Homo sapiens: one gene and its partner. The protein of the gene in region 1 interacts with the protein of each later gene in a pairwise test. Each region holds a gene or a part of one and is shown in the gene's direction. Other genes may lie near its edges.

Evidence for each region. The genes of interacting proteins can lie anywhere in the genome.
Region 2: the proteins of RBM47 (region 1) and CELF5 interact in binary tests that used the Homo sapiens proteins (3 or more experiments, as listed by UniProt).

Annotation. Positions count from the first base shown.
Region 1 is NC_000004.12:40,626,848-40,633,848, reverse strand, and holds the start of RBM47 (RNA-binding protein 47), read left to right. Parts: upstream 1-3,984; 5' UTR 3,985-4,453; intron 4,454-7,001. UniProt on the Homo sapiens protein: Single-stranded RNA-binding protein that functions in a variety of RNA processes, including alternative splicing, RNA stabilization, and RNA editing. Functions as an enzyme-substrate adapter for the cytidine deaminase APOBEC1.
Region 2 is NC_000019.10:3,219,919-3,227,679, forward strand, and holds the start of CELF5 (CUGBP Elav-like family member 5), read left to right. Parts: upstream 1-4,742; 5' UTR 4,743-4,821; coding exon 4,822-5,080; intron 5,081-5,359; exon of another isoform or gene 5,360-5,700; intron 5,701-7,761. UniProt on the Homo sapiens protein: RNA-binding protein implicated in the regulation of pre-mRNA alternative splicing. Mediates exon inclusion and/or exclusion in pre-mRNA that are subject to tissue-specific and developmentally regulated alternative splicing.

The DNA of each region.
Region 1 (7,001 bases):
TGGAGGTTCGAGCTAGCCAAAATCGCACCATTGCACTCCAGCCTGGCCAACAAGGGCGAGACTCTGTCACAAAAAAAAAAAAAAAAAAAAAAAAAGGCCAGGCGTGGTGGCTCACGCCTGTAATCCCAGCACTTTGGGAGGCTGAGGCAGGCGGATCACGAGGTCAGGAGTTCAAGACCAGCCTGACCAACATGGTGAAACCCCCTCTCTACTAACAAAAAAATACAAAAATTAGCTGGGCGTGGTGCTGCGTGCCTGTAATCCCAGCTACTCGGGAGACTGAGGCAGGAGAATCACTTGAACCTGGGAGGCAGAGGTTGCAGTGAACCGAGATTGTGCCATTGCACTCCTGCCTGGGCAATAGAGTGAGACTCCATCTCGGAAAAAACAAACAAAAAGAAATCCAGAAAGATAGCTGTTATTAATTTATAAATGAAGACACTAAAACTCAAAGCGATTAAGCAATTTGTCCAACATCACATAGCTCAGAGAAGAAATTGAGATTCAAACTCAAATCTATTGGAAACTAATTTTCATGCTGTTTGCACTCACTCCGGAACATTGCCTCATAGGCAGAAGGAAAAGAAGAAAACAGAAAGTAAAAGACAAGGGTCTAGAAAACTAAAATGCCCCAGGAAAATGGAGTGGGCCTAAGAATTAAAATAATTATAATAATAATAAAACAGGCGCCAAGGTTAGCCACAAAAAAGAAATAATAAAAGTTCACATTTGTTTTGCTATAGCCTGCCACTTAGAAAAATCTGTTTTATTTTTGTCATGTTCCCGGGGAGGGCAGTGAGAAATAGGAACAAGAATTATACCCATTTCTCCAGCGGATATGGAGTGCAAAAAAAGAAAGAAAGGATATACCCATTTCATAGGTGTCAGTGGGCAAAACTGAAGAAGGAGCAGGCAACATCTGAAAAAGGGTAACTGACCCTCTTTGAGATGAGGACTCACTTCCTGAAGTGGAACCTGAGCCTCCTCAAGCAGGAGTTTTCCCTGACTCCAGTTCCAGTTCACCTGGAGTCACTGACCTCCACACTTTCAAATTTCTTTTATTTTTATCATTTTTTAAATTTATTTATGTGTTTATTTTTTTTTTTGAGACGGAGTCTTGCTCTTTCGCCCAGGCCGGAGTGCAGTGGCGCGATCTCGGCTCCCTGCAAACTTCACCTCCCGGGTTCAAGCCATTCTCCCGCCTCAGCCTCCCGAGTGGCTAGAATTACAGGTGCCTGCCACCATGCCCAGCCAATTTTTGTATTTTTAGTAGAGACGGGGTTTCGCCACGTTGGCCAGGCTCATCTGGAACTCCTGACCTCAGGTTATCTGCCTGCCTCGACCTCCCAAAGTGTGGGGATTACAGGCGTGAGCCACCGTGCCCAGCGAGAATGTCCCCTCTAGAATCCTTCAGCTCAGACAGTCTGTGACAGCGAGCCTTTTTTGAGGCCATAATCCAGATACTTCTGGAAAAGAAAAGAAAATTTCAGGCTAATATGGAGCTGGGTTTTTTAGTTGTCTTAAGGGGGTGGAGCCGTTGTTTGTGCCTGGCAGCATCAACCCTTAGGTCTGGTGAGGGAACTTAGCTAAGAGAGTTCCCACTGCCTGCTGTTCACAGTACATGCTGGCTGGTATCGACAAAGAATGAACCTAAAACACAGGAAATGTTGAATTTGTCTGGGTTAAATTTTGCCTCATGAGAAGATAAAAGATCAGAAGGATTTAAAATGTTCCAGAATGCTTTGCTGGTTTTAAGGAATCATTTTTCCCAAAGGTGGCAAATGCTGCTTTTTAAATTTATGGTTTTCTTGATACCCCTTCAGCCTTTGTTTCTCTCTCTTAGGACTACTACTTTTTAATTAATTTTCACTTAACTTTCCAATACTGATGAAATAAAGAAAAATGAGGGTTATTTATATATATTTTAATAAATCCAGTTTGATTTTTCAACTTAAAAAAAAATTAACTAGAACTGAGAACCAGTCCTGGCCTCACCACCTTGGACTTACACTTAACCTGTGTGATCTCAGTGTCTTCATCTGCAAAATGGGGACAAAATAGCTCATAGGATCATTTTGTAAGGATCACATAAAGTAAGAAGGGTGAAAGTGCTCCATAAAGTAGAAAGGGCCTCACTAATGGAAAGGGATTATGATTTCTTTCTTTAAATGTGAAGTTAAATGGAGGATAAAGGGTGGAGGCACTGATAACATTTTAGCCTTCAATAATCACTTTTTAATATTTATGAGGAGTTTCAAAATCATTTCCCTCTCTTTCATACTGCTTTTCAAACGGCAAGGGTCATTATTTGTCCGGCCCAGTCTGGGATAAGTAACTATCCCAGGGTAAGACACCAGGTCAAGTGCCAAAATACAAATGAGAATTAAGCATAGCAGATGGGTGATTGCTGGGCCCTGAATTTCCTTCCCGTTAGTGAGCTTCATGGAATGCAGGCAAATTTATCTCCATTTCTGTTGTCAATCTTGTAACTTTTAAGTGAGATGAAATTCAGTTGGCTACCCTTTACAGGGACTTTATTTCCCATTGTATTCAAGACTGTCAGCAATGAATATAAACTGTTTGTAAAAATCCCATCGTTAGAATCTTCCAGAAACTGAGGCTGGGAGAGATTAAATATCTTGCTCATGGCCTCACAGCTGGTGAGTGGCAATGCTGGTGCTACAGCCCATGTCTAACTCTGACCACACACTCTTCTTCAGAAAAAAGCCATAATGTAAATAATAATAAGAAGAATAACAACAACAATAACGGCAGCTAACACTGTGTGCTAGGCACCGTTCTAAGCTCTTTGCATGTGTTAACTCAACCAGCAAAGAACCATTTTTGGAACATTCTTTCACTAAAGTAGCCCGGTATTTTTTTCTTTCCCCTCAGCTGAATGACACTGCAACCCGAAATCACAACTCTGTTTTAGGTTCCTGGTGGTGCCTGCTTCCTCTTCTAGTTTGTTTAGTCACAGAATTCGATTCCTGTTGGCCCATTCCGCGCCTACAAACAGGCTTAGCGCTCCACTGAAATGCGGGAGGCTCCTTAACTCTTGTATAAACAGGTAAGGCGGAGGGGGTGGGGCGCGGATTGCGGACATCTGGGTTTCTTGGGAATTGGGATGGGGTGGGGGTTCGAGCCAACTCCCCAGAGAGCAGGCAAGGTGAAGCGAGGGCTTGGCTGCTGTTTCTAAATGCAGTGTTTTTTTGTTCCCTTTCTAGAAACCCTCCGTAACTCTAGGTCAGAGCGCACTAAAATGAGCCACTTCTGAACGAGCAGCGCCCAGGCCCCAGGCCCTGCTGCGAAGGCCCCGGCAAAGGTCAGGGCCCCGTCCGCGTGACGCTCCTGCCTGCGCGCGGCCAAGCCATGCTCGGCCCCAGGTAAGGACGCCCCGGGAGCTCGCCCCGGGAGCTCTCCCCGGGCACGCGGGGGTCGCAGAGATCCCACCTCGTCCAGCGACTTGTTTATGGGGGGAAGAAGGGGAGCGGGGCGGTTCCGATCGGCTTGAAATTCAGCAGCAGGTTCCTAATTTCTCCAACGTGGTTCTGGCTGGGTTTCTCGGAGCAGCCCGAAGGGGGCCGAGCGTCTGACTCGGACAGATGCCCCCAGGTGGAGCAGGTGCCACTTCTGGGTGTCTGAAAGGCATGTGACTTTTGGGGCGGGGAGAGAAGTCCGTCTGGTCAAGTCCCCCAATCTCTGCCATCAAGGCCGATTTTCTTTGAACCTTCAGCAAAGGTATCTGCGCTCCTAAAAAACAACAGGAATGTGGCACTGGCCTTTAGCCAGGGGAGGCTCAGCCAGCAGGATAAAATTTCAGGGCAGATTTACGGGAAGTTGCCGGTGTTGGGAGTAAAAATCTGGTTTGGTGAGTTTAAGGGAAGGGAGTAGACGAGAGACAACCTTGCTACTGTGAGGCGGATGGCCTCGGCAGGGGGCGGGCGGCGGGAGGAGAGAGGGAGGGAACCGGGAAGGGCCCGCAGACTAGACGCTGAGCGCTCCCGTGCGCAGCGCCCCACGCAGCCGGGACGCGGCGCCGCTCTGCGGGTGGAACCGCCGCGCGCTCCCGGCCTCGGGAGCTGAGCCCGAGAGAACTTCGCTGCCTTCGGGTCGCCGCTCCCGCTTTCCACTGTGGAATGTGCAGCTTGGGATAGAGAGAAACCAGGGTTTGGGGAGCGGTCCTCCTGGAGACTTTCTCTCTGCAAGTCTCCAAGGTTAAGCAATTCTGACCCACTGGAATTCCCAGAGCCTGGGAGTTAAGCCTAAAACGCTCTGTTGCTTTAAGCGGCGCGGTGGGGAGTCGCTGGACACTCCTTATTTTGGTTTTACATTAAAAAGAAGGCGGACGAGAAGATGTTGTAGGTGACTTCCTAGCTGTGTTAAGTTGCTCCTGGGCTGTGAATGGTGTTAATTTCTGAAGTGGGCGGCTCCAAAAACTTAACAAGGAAAGGTAAGGTGGTTTTTGGTAGTCCTTCTAACTATTGTCCCTTAATCTTACATTTGGGTCCCAATTTTTGAAGTGTATATTTTTTTCTTATTCTTCTCTCTTTAGCTCTTATCCCTCATGCTATCACTCATCTTCTGTCTCTTGGTATATTTAGTGGGAAATAAAGGGTTTATAAAACGGTTTTAAAAGGGTCAACCTCTGGGAAGGCAGATAATCATATACAGTCAGTCCCATCGTGTTTCCTGTAGTGATGAATCTTTTCCCATAAAAGAAACTGATTTTTTTTTTTCACTCTTGAAAATACATGATTGGACCGCCCAGAAGCACAGGTGACTTTAGACTCAGATTATTACAGTGAGACTGAGGAAGCGTCCTGGACAGGAGGCATCTCATTTAAGTGTTAACCAAGGCAGAGGGGGGTCTTCCTGCAGTAATTTACGTCTGAAAGTAACACTCGGTAGAGGTGTAGTTGTTTCAAATTAAAAATTCAGCCTGTAGAAAAGGGTAGGACTGACGAATTATGACATCTGACAAATTAGCAGTTGACCGGATATTTAAGAAATCAGATAAAATAAATGGAAGTGGAATTTTTCAAATAAATGACTCATTTTTTAATTAGGTAAAAGTTCAGCCACTCTTGGGTACTGTCCCAAGGCATAAGTGATAGGAAGATACCATCTTCAAGGTACTTACAGGCCATTACCGACCTGAACTAAAAATCAAACCTTTTTTTTTTATCTGGTGGTATTTTAATGACTCACTGTTTTCTTTAGCAGGAATATAGATTTTAAAATGTATTCTTTAAAAGTTTTAAGGCAAGGTCATACGAATTTCTCAGGGGAGGGAAAGCAAAGGGTTGACAACCCAACATGAAGGAGTTGCCGAAGTTTTGAGCTCAAAAGGTTGGCAATTAGATCCAGAGCATTTGAGAATTGCAGGTGCCGATTCTAAAAGGTGAAAGGTGGTCAGCGGCGTAACACACAACCTCTAGATAAACCAAAGTACTCAACCTAGAGCATAAGAAGAGATCACTTTGTGGGAGTTTGTGTTGCTATTAATTTAAACAATGATCTTTGTTAGATCAATGACTTGAAGTCTTGGAGGGAACTAAAATCAACCCAGTCTGAAAGGAAAACAGAAGGAAAAAAAGAAAGGAGGAGATGGTTTGGTTTTTAATATTTTTTTCTGGTCTGCTTTACCCTTCACCTTGTTCTGATATACACACTGTTGGCCTCTTTGACTTAATTATTGCATGCTGGAAGGATGGGGTCTCAGAAATTTCCCAAGCACCTAGCTTCATTATTAACTTTCAGTATGTGTCAAATGAAGAAATAAGCCTAGCTGTGCCGTCCTTTACCTGGCTAGGTAGGCCATGCTTTAAATTAATTAGATCAAGATATTCTGAATATCAATCAATTATTAAAGATTTATTATCTTCCTCTTGGTTTTTGCGTTTACAGAAGTTTGTAGGATTGAGAATTCATCATCATCATTTTTTTTACCAATCTCTATATTTTTAATAGTCAACATATTTATTTTTGATTCCCCCACTGTGCTGCTTTAAATTAAATTTTGAAAGAATTCTGCCCAAAGCAGTAGTGATACTGAGGATGAAATAAAGACAGAAAGCAAGGGAACTACATGCTTCTGGACACGTGTTCTATAGACTTGCTCTAACTAGTGTTAAAGACTACTCATTTTTTTCCTCACATGATAAGAACATTCATATTAGACTATTTGGTTTACTGTTCTAGGTAATGATTTTTTAAAAGATTGGGTTAAGATGAAATTATTTTCTTACAAAAGGATTTAATTTGCTTTTCAAATTCTGCTCTGAAGCTCAAGATTAAATCATGTCCCAAATGACTGAGCTTTCATTGCTATAGAAAAGCATTTGGCTATTTCAGTAAGTTTCCGCCTCCACATCTTAAGTCTCTTGATTTTTCAGAAAAGGTCAGGGGAGTGGATATAAGCGTGAAGGGAGGGAGATTTTCTTAAAATTGGACCCAGGCTCAAGTGAAACTGTGATTAGGTAATCCCAGAAGATACATAATTCTGGGGAAAAAAAACTCTGAAGAGGGTTTAAGTTTGGGATTCATGAGACTTAGAAAAAGGGTATGCTTAGAATAAAGGTAGAATTTGTGTGCCAAACTTTGATGAAGTTACAATGAAGACATTAAATGCAGCTTTAAGTGCTTGTCACCGTGATTCCAAGCTACAGGTTATATTGCAGTGTTTCAGCTACTGGCCTGATTAGGAGATATATTTTCTTTCCCTCTTGGGAACAGTCTCTGTGTCTTAATGATGATGCTGATTTTCTGGTTTAATATCATAAAAGGTGTGTGTTGGTCCCAACATTACTGCTCCAAGTAGTGGCTTCAAAGAGCAACTGGATAAAGATTTTCAATAATAGCAATGCAGAGATGACCTGGGTTTCAAGATAGGAGGCCTTTGGAGCCTTCAGAGAATTGTCATAGAAATGATCAGTAACTAATTGCTCAGTTGCCACCTCAAGTTGTTGTTTCCATCTTATGCGGGAGAGATTCGGGGG
Region 2 (7,761 bases), on another chromosome or scaffold:
AGGAGTTTGTGAGTTTCTCTTTTGATTTTGTTTTCTTTTGAGACAGAGTTTTGCTCTTGTTGCCCAGGGTGGAGTGCGATGGTACAGTCTTGGCTTACTGTAGCCTGGACCTCCCTGGGCTGAAGCGATCCTCCCACCTCAGCCTCCCAAGTAGCTGGAACCACAGGTGCCTGCCACCACACCCGGCTAATTTTTGTATTTTTTGTAGAGATGGAGTCTTGCTATGTTACAGCTCAGGCTAGTGTGGAACTCCCGGGCTCAAGCAGTCCTCCCAGCTCGGCCTCCCAAAGTGCTGGGATTACAGGCATGATTTTTCTTTTTTTTTTGAGACGGAGTCTCGCTCTGTTGCCCAGGCTGGAGTGCGGTGGCGCGATCTTGGCTCACTGCAAACTCCGCCTCCCGGGTTCAAGCAATTCTCCTGCCTCAGCCTCCTGAGTAGCTGGGACTACTGGCACACACCACCACGCCCAACTTTTTGTAATTTCAGTAGGGATGGGGTTTTGCCATGTTGGCCAAGATGGTCTCAATCTCTTGCCCTCATGATGTGCCTGCCTCGGCCTCCCAAGGTGCTAGGATTACAGGTATGAGCCACCACACCCGGCCAAATTTTAGACACGGGGTTTCACCATGTTGGCCAGGCTGGTCTCGAACTCCTGACCTCAAGTGATCCACTTGCCTTGGCTTCCCAAAGTGCTGGGATTACAGGCGTGAGCCACTGCGCCCGGCCAGGCGTGATTTTTAAAATTCTTATTAAGGACTCTCCCAGAACACCAGAGGCTCACGGGGCTCTGAGCATCCTGCTTGAGTCTCCATGGAGACGAAGCCTATGTCTCCTGGCCGACTCCACCAGCCCCAGTGCCACGCTGTGCCCGGCCAAGCCTCAGCTGAGTCTAAGCACCTGCGTCTGTGCTGGGCCGAGTGGCAGGATGTTGTGGGAGAACCCCTGACCCCTTGCCCAGCTCTGCTCGTCACCCAGTTCTGATGTTCTGTTCCATCTGGGGGTGGCCAGGAGGCTGCCAGTAACAGCAATGATGAATAGCCATTCACTGAGCTAAGCTCCCAGACACTCTGCTAAGCCCACATTTTAGTTCATGAGTCCACACCAGACCAGGGCCTTCACCATATCCTCTTTTTCTTTTTCTTTTTTTTTTTTTGAGATGGCGTCTCACTTGGTCGTTCAGGCTGGCGTGCAGTGGTGCGATCTCGGCTCACTGCAACCTCCACCTCCCAGGTTCAGGCGATTCTGCCTCAGCCTCCCAAGTAGCTGGGATTACAGGTGCATGCCACCACGCCCGGCTAATTGTGTATTTTTAGTAGAGATGGGGTTTTGCCACGCTGGCCAGGATGGTCTCGAACTCCTGACCTCAGATCATCTGCCAGCCTTGGCCTCCCCAAGTGCTGGGATTACAGGTGTGAGTCACCGTGCCCGGTCCCTCTCCTCTCTCTTTAGTCCTGCTTGGCAAATAAGGAAACTGGGGCTCAGCTGCCTGATGTGTGGGGAGATGGTATGGGATGGTGGGAAGTGTGTGTGCTCCAGAGTCTGGCTTCCTGGGTTTACATCCCAGCTCTCTTACCGTGTGGTCTTGCACCAGCCACTGGAGCTCTCTGGGCCTCAGTTCCCCCTCTAACGCGGGTGGACATTTCATACAAATGGCGTCACACGCTGTGTGGTCTTCTGTGTTTGACATCTTTCACCAAGCATGATGTGCTCAAGGTATGGCTTGGGTCAGAGCCTCATTTTTTTTTTCATGGCTGAGTCGTGTTCCATTGGCTGGATGGAGCACAAAATGTCCTCTAAAGCCAGGCATGGTGGCTCACACTTGTCATCCCAGCACTTTGAGAGGCTGAGGCGGGAGGATTGCTTGAGCCCAGAAGTTTGCGTACAGCCTGGACAACATAGCAAGACTCCATTTCTACAAAAAATTTAAAAATTAGCCAGGCATGGTGGCATGGACATCTGTGGTCCCAGCTACTCTGGAGGCTGAGGCAGGAGGATCGCTTGAGCCCAAGAGGTCAAGGCTGCAGCAAGCTATGATCATGCCACTGCACTCCAGCCTGGGTGACAGAGCGATACCCTGCCTTATAAATAAATAAATAAATAAAATTGTAAATTAGCCAGGTGTGGTGGTGGGAGCCTGTAATCCCAGCTACTCAGGAGGCTGAGGCATGAGAATCACTTGAACCCAGGAGGTGGAAGTTGCAGTGAGCCGAGATTGCACCACTGCACTCCAGCCTGGGCGACAGCAAGAGCCTGTCTCAAAAAATAAATAAAATAAGAATTAAAAATTAAATTTTAGGCTGGGCGCAGTAGCTCATGCCTGTAATCCCAGCACTTTGGGAGGCTGAGGTGGGCAGATCACCTAAGGTCAGGAGTTCGACACCAGCCTGGCCAACATGGTGAAACCCATCTCTACTAAAAATACAAAAATTAGCCAGGTGTGGTGGCACATGCCTGTAATCCCAGCTACACTGGAGACTGAGACAGGAGAATTGCTTGAACCCGGGAGGCAGAGGTTGCAGTGAGCCGAGATAATGCCACTGCACTCCAGCCTGGGTGACACAGCGAGACTCTGTCTCAATAATAAATAAATAAATAAATAAGTACGTTAATAAAATTTTACACTATTTGGGTGTGGTGGGGTGCAACTGTAATCCCAGCTACTCAGGTGGCTGAGGCAGGAGAATCATTTGAACCTGGTAGGTGGAGGTTGCAGTAAGCCAAGATCACACCATTGCACTTCAGCCTGGGCGACAGAGAGAGACTCCATCTCGAAAAAAATAAAAATAAAAATGAAAATAAAATTTTAAATGGGTGTAACTCTGTGGAGGGAAAAAGAAGGCTGAGAAAGGAGATAATGGTGACTGAGCGGTTTTAGATAAGGTAGATGGGGAAAGTGATGGGGAATTAAGGAATGAGCCACACATCATCTGGGGAGAGCACATCCCAGACAAAGGGTACAGCCCGTGCAAAGGCCCTGAGGCAGGACCGCACCTGACAAGTGAGAGGAACAGCGAGGAGGCCTGTGTAGCTGCAGCAGTGAGGAGGGGGAGAGAGGGAGCAGGGGAAGGTGGGGACAAGGCAGAACAGGACACGCAGAGCCTTGTGGGCCTCAAGAAGGACTTGGGCTTTAATTATGGGACATCTTTGGGAAGTGTTTTTTTTTTTTTTTTTTTTGAGACAAGATTTCATTCTGTCGCCTAGACCAGAGGCAGTGGTGCGATCCTGGTTCACTGCAGCTTTAATATCCCAGGGATCAACCGATGCTCCCACCGCAGCCTCCGAGTAGCTGGGACCAACGGTGCACACCAACCACTCCTGGCTGATTTTTTTTTTTTTTTTTCTCAAACAGAGTTTCACTCTTGTTGCCCAGGCTGGAGTGCAATGGCGCAATCTCGGCTCACTGCAATCTCCGCCTCCCGGGTTCAAGCGATTTTCCTGCCTCAGCCTCCTGAGTAGCTGGGATTACAGGCATGCACAACCATGCCTGGCTAATTTTTGTGTTTTTAGTAGAGACAGAGTTTTCTCCATGTTGATCAGGCTGGTCTCGAACTCCTGATCTCAGGTGATCCACCTGCCTCAGCCTCCCAAAGTGCTGGGATTACAGGTGTGAGCCATCGTGCCTGGCCTGTTTTCTTATTTTTTACAGCAATGGCGTCTCACTATGTTGCTCAGGCTGGTCTCCAACTCCTGGGCTCAAGTGGTCCTCCTGACTCTGCTTCTCAAAGTGCTGGGATTACAGGTGTGAGCCACCACGGCCAGCACGTATTATTATTTTTATTAATATTATTGATGAGTTTCATACGTAAAGGATCACGGGCACTTTAGAGCTGGGAGATACTTCAGTATTTCTCCTATCCTGTCATTATCAGTGCGAGCCAGTCTCCCTCCTTGTTGATGACATTATTGATGAGTTACATACTTAAAGGGCCAAGGACACTTTCTATGTGTAAGCACCCTATAGAACTGGAAGATACTTTTACCATTTCTCCTGTGCTGTCGTGATTAGTGGGAGCACTTTGTCTTGCTCTTGATTAATTATTATTAGTGTTGTTATTATTAGGTGTTTTTTTTTTTTTTTTTTACCAAGACGGAGTTTTGCTCTTGTTGCCCAGGCTGGAGTACAATGGCACAATCTTGGCTCACTGCAACCTCCGCCTCCTGGGTTCAAGTGATTATCCTGCCTCAGCCTCCCGAGTAGCTGGGATTACAGGCACCCCCCGCCACCGAGCCCAGCTAATTTTTGTATTCTTTAGTAGAGACGGGGTTTCACCGTGTTAGCCAGTCTGGTCTCGAACTCCTGACCTCAAGTGATCCACCCACCTCGGCCTCCCAAAGTGCTGAGATGACAGGCGTGAGCCACCGCGCCCAGCCATATTATTAGTGTTATTAATATTATTGATGAGTTACCTACTTTAAGGATCACGGGCGCTTTCAACGACAAGCCCCCTACATTATCCCAGCAACTTTTGACATTCTTCCGGCCGATGCCCTCCGCGGGAGCCGGCGGGGACCCCTGGGAAGCCGGCTAAGGCCCGTCCCGCCCGCAGCTCCGCCCTCGCCCACCCGTAGGCGGGGCCCGGGGCCTTCCGGCCTCAGTTTCCCCCCGCGGCCCGGGGATGCGGGGAGGCGCCGGCTGCCCCGCGCGGCGCGGCCGCCAGGGGCCGCTGCGGAGCCGCCTTTGTGGTCCCGATGCCGGGGCGGGCGCGGGCGGGAGGAGGGCGCGGGGGCCCGGGAGGGAGGCGGGAGGCGCGGCCGCCGCTCCAGCTGCGAGTCCGCCCGCCGCCCGCCGCCGCCGCCGCCGGCTCGGTCCCGCGCCCGCCATGGCCCGCCTGACGGAGAGCGAGGCGCGCCGGCAGCAGCAGCAGCTCCTGCAGCCGCGGCCCTCGCCCGTGGGCAGCAGCGGGCCCGAGCCCCCCGGGGGGCAGCCCGACGGCATGAAGGACCTGGACGCCATCAAACTCTTCGTGGGCCAGATCCCGCGGCACCTGGACGAGAAGGACCTCAAGCCGCTCTTCGAGCAGTTCGGCCGCATCTACGAGCTCACGGTGCTCAAAGACCCCTACACGGGGATGCACAAAGGTGGGCGCCCGGCCCCCTCCCCCCTCTCCCCCTCCCTCCGCCTCCCACCCCACCTTCCGGCATCTTCTCTCCCCCATCACCATCCCTCCTCTGCTCACCTCCCTCCTCTGCCTGCCTCTGCCGGAGCATCGGTTCTTACCCCCTCCCTCCCACCCACCCCTCCTCCCCTCTCTGGGGGTGCAGCTGACAGATCCGAGCGGGCCCCCTCCCCTCCTCCGCCCCCTCTCCCTCCCTCCCCACCTTCCGGCATCTCCTCTCTCTCTCCCTCTCTCTCTCCCTCTCTCTCTCCCTTTCTCTTCTCTCCCATCTCCCTCGACCTCTCATCCTTCCCCCCACAGCACCCTCTCTCTCCCTCCCTCCCTCCCTCACCCTTCCATCCCCCAGACCCCCACCCCTTCCTCCCTCCCTCACCCCACTCTTTCCTGCCCGTTTGCCAGGGGAGCCTCGGGAACGCCGGCACCCCTCCCTGCCCCCCCACCCCCATTCATTCAGCCTCCCCAGGCCCCGTCGGGGAAGTTTGCACCTGCGGACTCCATTGCTTTGGTTATTTTCACAAAGCCAGGCCGGCGGGGCAGGTCCGGCCGCGGGGGACACGGATGCCCAGGACCCCAGGCTAATCGGTAACTACAAAGGAAGACGGGTTGGGGGCGCCCGGCTCGGGGGGACGCGCCCGCCTCGCCTGCCTCGGGTGGCGGAGAGGCTCCCGTCGCTGCCCACCCCCTGGCCCCACCACCTCCGCGTGGATCAGCATTCTCTCCTCCATTTCTCTGCCCTCCCCCTCCCCCGCCTCCACCTTGGGCTCAAGTTGAAACTGGCCGAGCCTCTTAGCAATGTGTTGGGGTCTCAGGCCCAAGACAATGAGCTTGGACGTGTCCATCTGGGCAGAGCCCAAATTCTGGGGTGGACAGGGAGGAGGAGGGAGGCGTGGGCGGCCTCAGGCCTGTCTGCCTCCCTCCCACTGGATTCTCCCTCCGATGGCATCCCGGGTGGGGGTGTCCGGCAATTGTATCCCCAGCCCTTGGTTCCCATCATGGGCCCAGCGTCTGAATTGGGGTGGCTTTGACAGCCTTCCGGTCAGGTGTTGGGGACTGGGGGTGCCACTTCAAAGGCCTTGTGCTGGACACCCCCGGCCCTCCCCCTCCCATCCTCCAGGAAGACCCTGGAGAGGCCTTGGGGAAGGACCGGGGCCCATGACCTATTTTACACCCACTTTTTCCCCAGCGCTGCGTGCCCGGTAAGCATGAATGCATGTTTATTGAATGAATGAATTGAATGAATGAATGAATGAATGAATGAATGAATGAAGGGGTTCAAGAAGGCCCTAGGGAGGGTCTGGTGAGATGGGGCCCAGGCCTGTCACTTCAGCTAGACCCTCCAGCTGGTTATCTTGAGGGAGGAAAGAAACCCCTCCCCATTCCCCATCTCTTTTCAAAACCAACCATCACACACACACACACACACACACACACACACACACAAAATTGGGCCTGAAAAATCTAACTCCTCCATGTGGCCTAGGAGGGCAGAGGGGCTCCCATGCGGCCCCCATAAGTCAATATCTGGAGTCCAGAGGTGATAGGTGGGCTTTTCCCACACGCCCCCACCCCTGGGTACACCCAAAGCACCCATTTCTAGAAAGATTCCCGTGGGAATGGGGGAGTCCACATGGCCCCCCAAACGGTTGCATTGAAAGGCCGCTGGTTGAGCTCTAGGTCGGAGAGACAGGTGGGGGTGCAGGGACTGGAGCATCCTGGTGACTCTTCTTCATCTTTTTTTTTTTTTCCTTCTTATTTTTAAATCTCTGGGAAACCTGGGCACGGGAGAAGTGAGGGGTGAAGGAGGGGCTGGGGCTGGGTTTTCACCTGGCCCTGAGCCTCAGTTTCCCTGCTGTCAACAGAGCAGGACCATGACGCATCCCCAGTTCTTTTTTTACAGGTTGGAGAATGTTGGGGTCCCTGGGGTACCTCGGGGGTATTTCCCATTTGCGGGCTTTCCTTGGAGGGTGAGAATTGAGAAGCCGTGTGCACGACAGCCGGCAATCACCCTCCACTTTTTAGGGGTCCCAGGTCCGTCTGTGTGTGAGATACAGGGGCTTCACCTCGTGTCGAAAATGGGTCCAGTACCCTCGGGGAAGTGAATCCCCACCTGCGTGGGGCCTGGCTGGACTTCACCTGGTCTTTGCCTGCAGGTGCTTGGCACGAAGGGGTGGGGGGGTGTCTTCAGAATCAGCATCTGTGATCCAGGTTTGCGTTTGGGGCTCAGCTGTGTGACTTCTGGCTAGTGACTGCCCCTCTCTGGGCCCTCTCTGGGCCTTGGCTGAAGGGAGGTGGAATGGTGAATGGGAAGTCAGGATTTTTGGGGAGAGGAGTGAGTTCAGACACCTGCCACCAACATGACCTTATTAGGGCTGTTTCTGGGAGCCCTGGCGTGGTTTAGTGTGCCTGTTCAGAGTGGCAGGGCCTTGGGGATATGGACCCCAGGCCTGGAGAGAAATCCCTTTCCCTGGATGCCCGGCGGGGCCCATGAGACTGGGCACAGGAGATCTGTAAGGAGTAGAGTGGGGTGGGATGAGAACACCCTGGAGGTGCACCCGGCTCCTGGTACAAGCCCGGAGGGGGTCAGCTGGTACCACCTCTAGCCCTTCCTTGGTGTCCAGGCTGCAGGGACTTGTTTGATTTCCC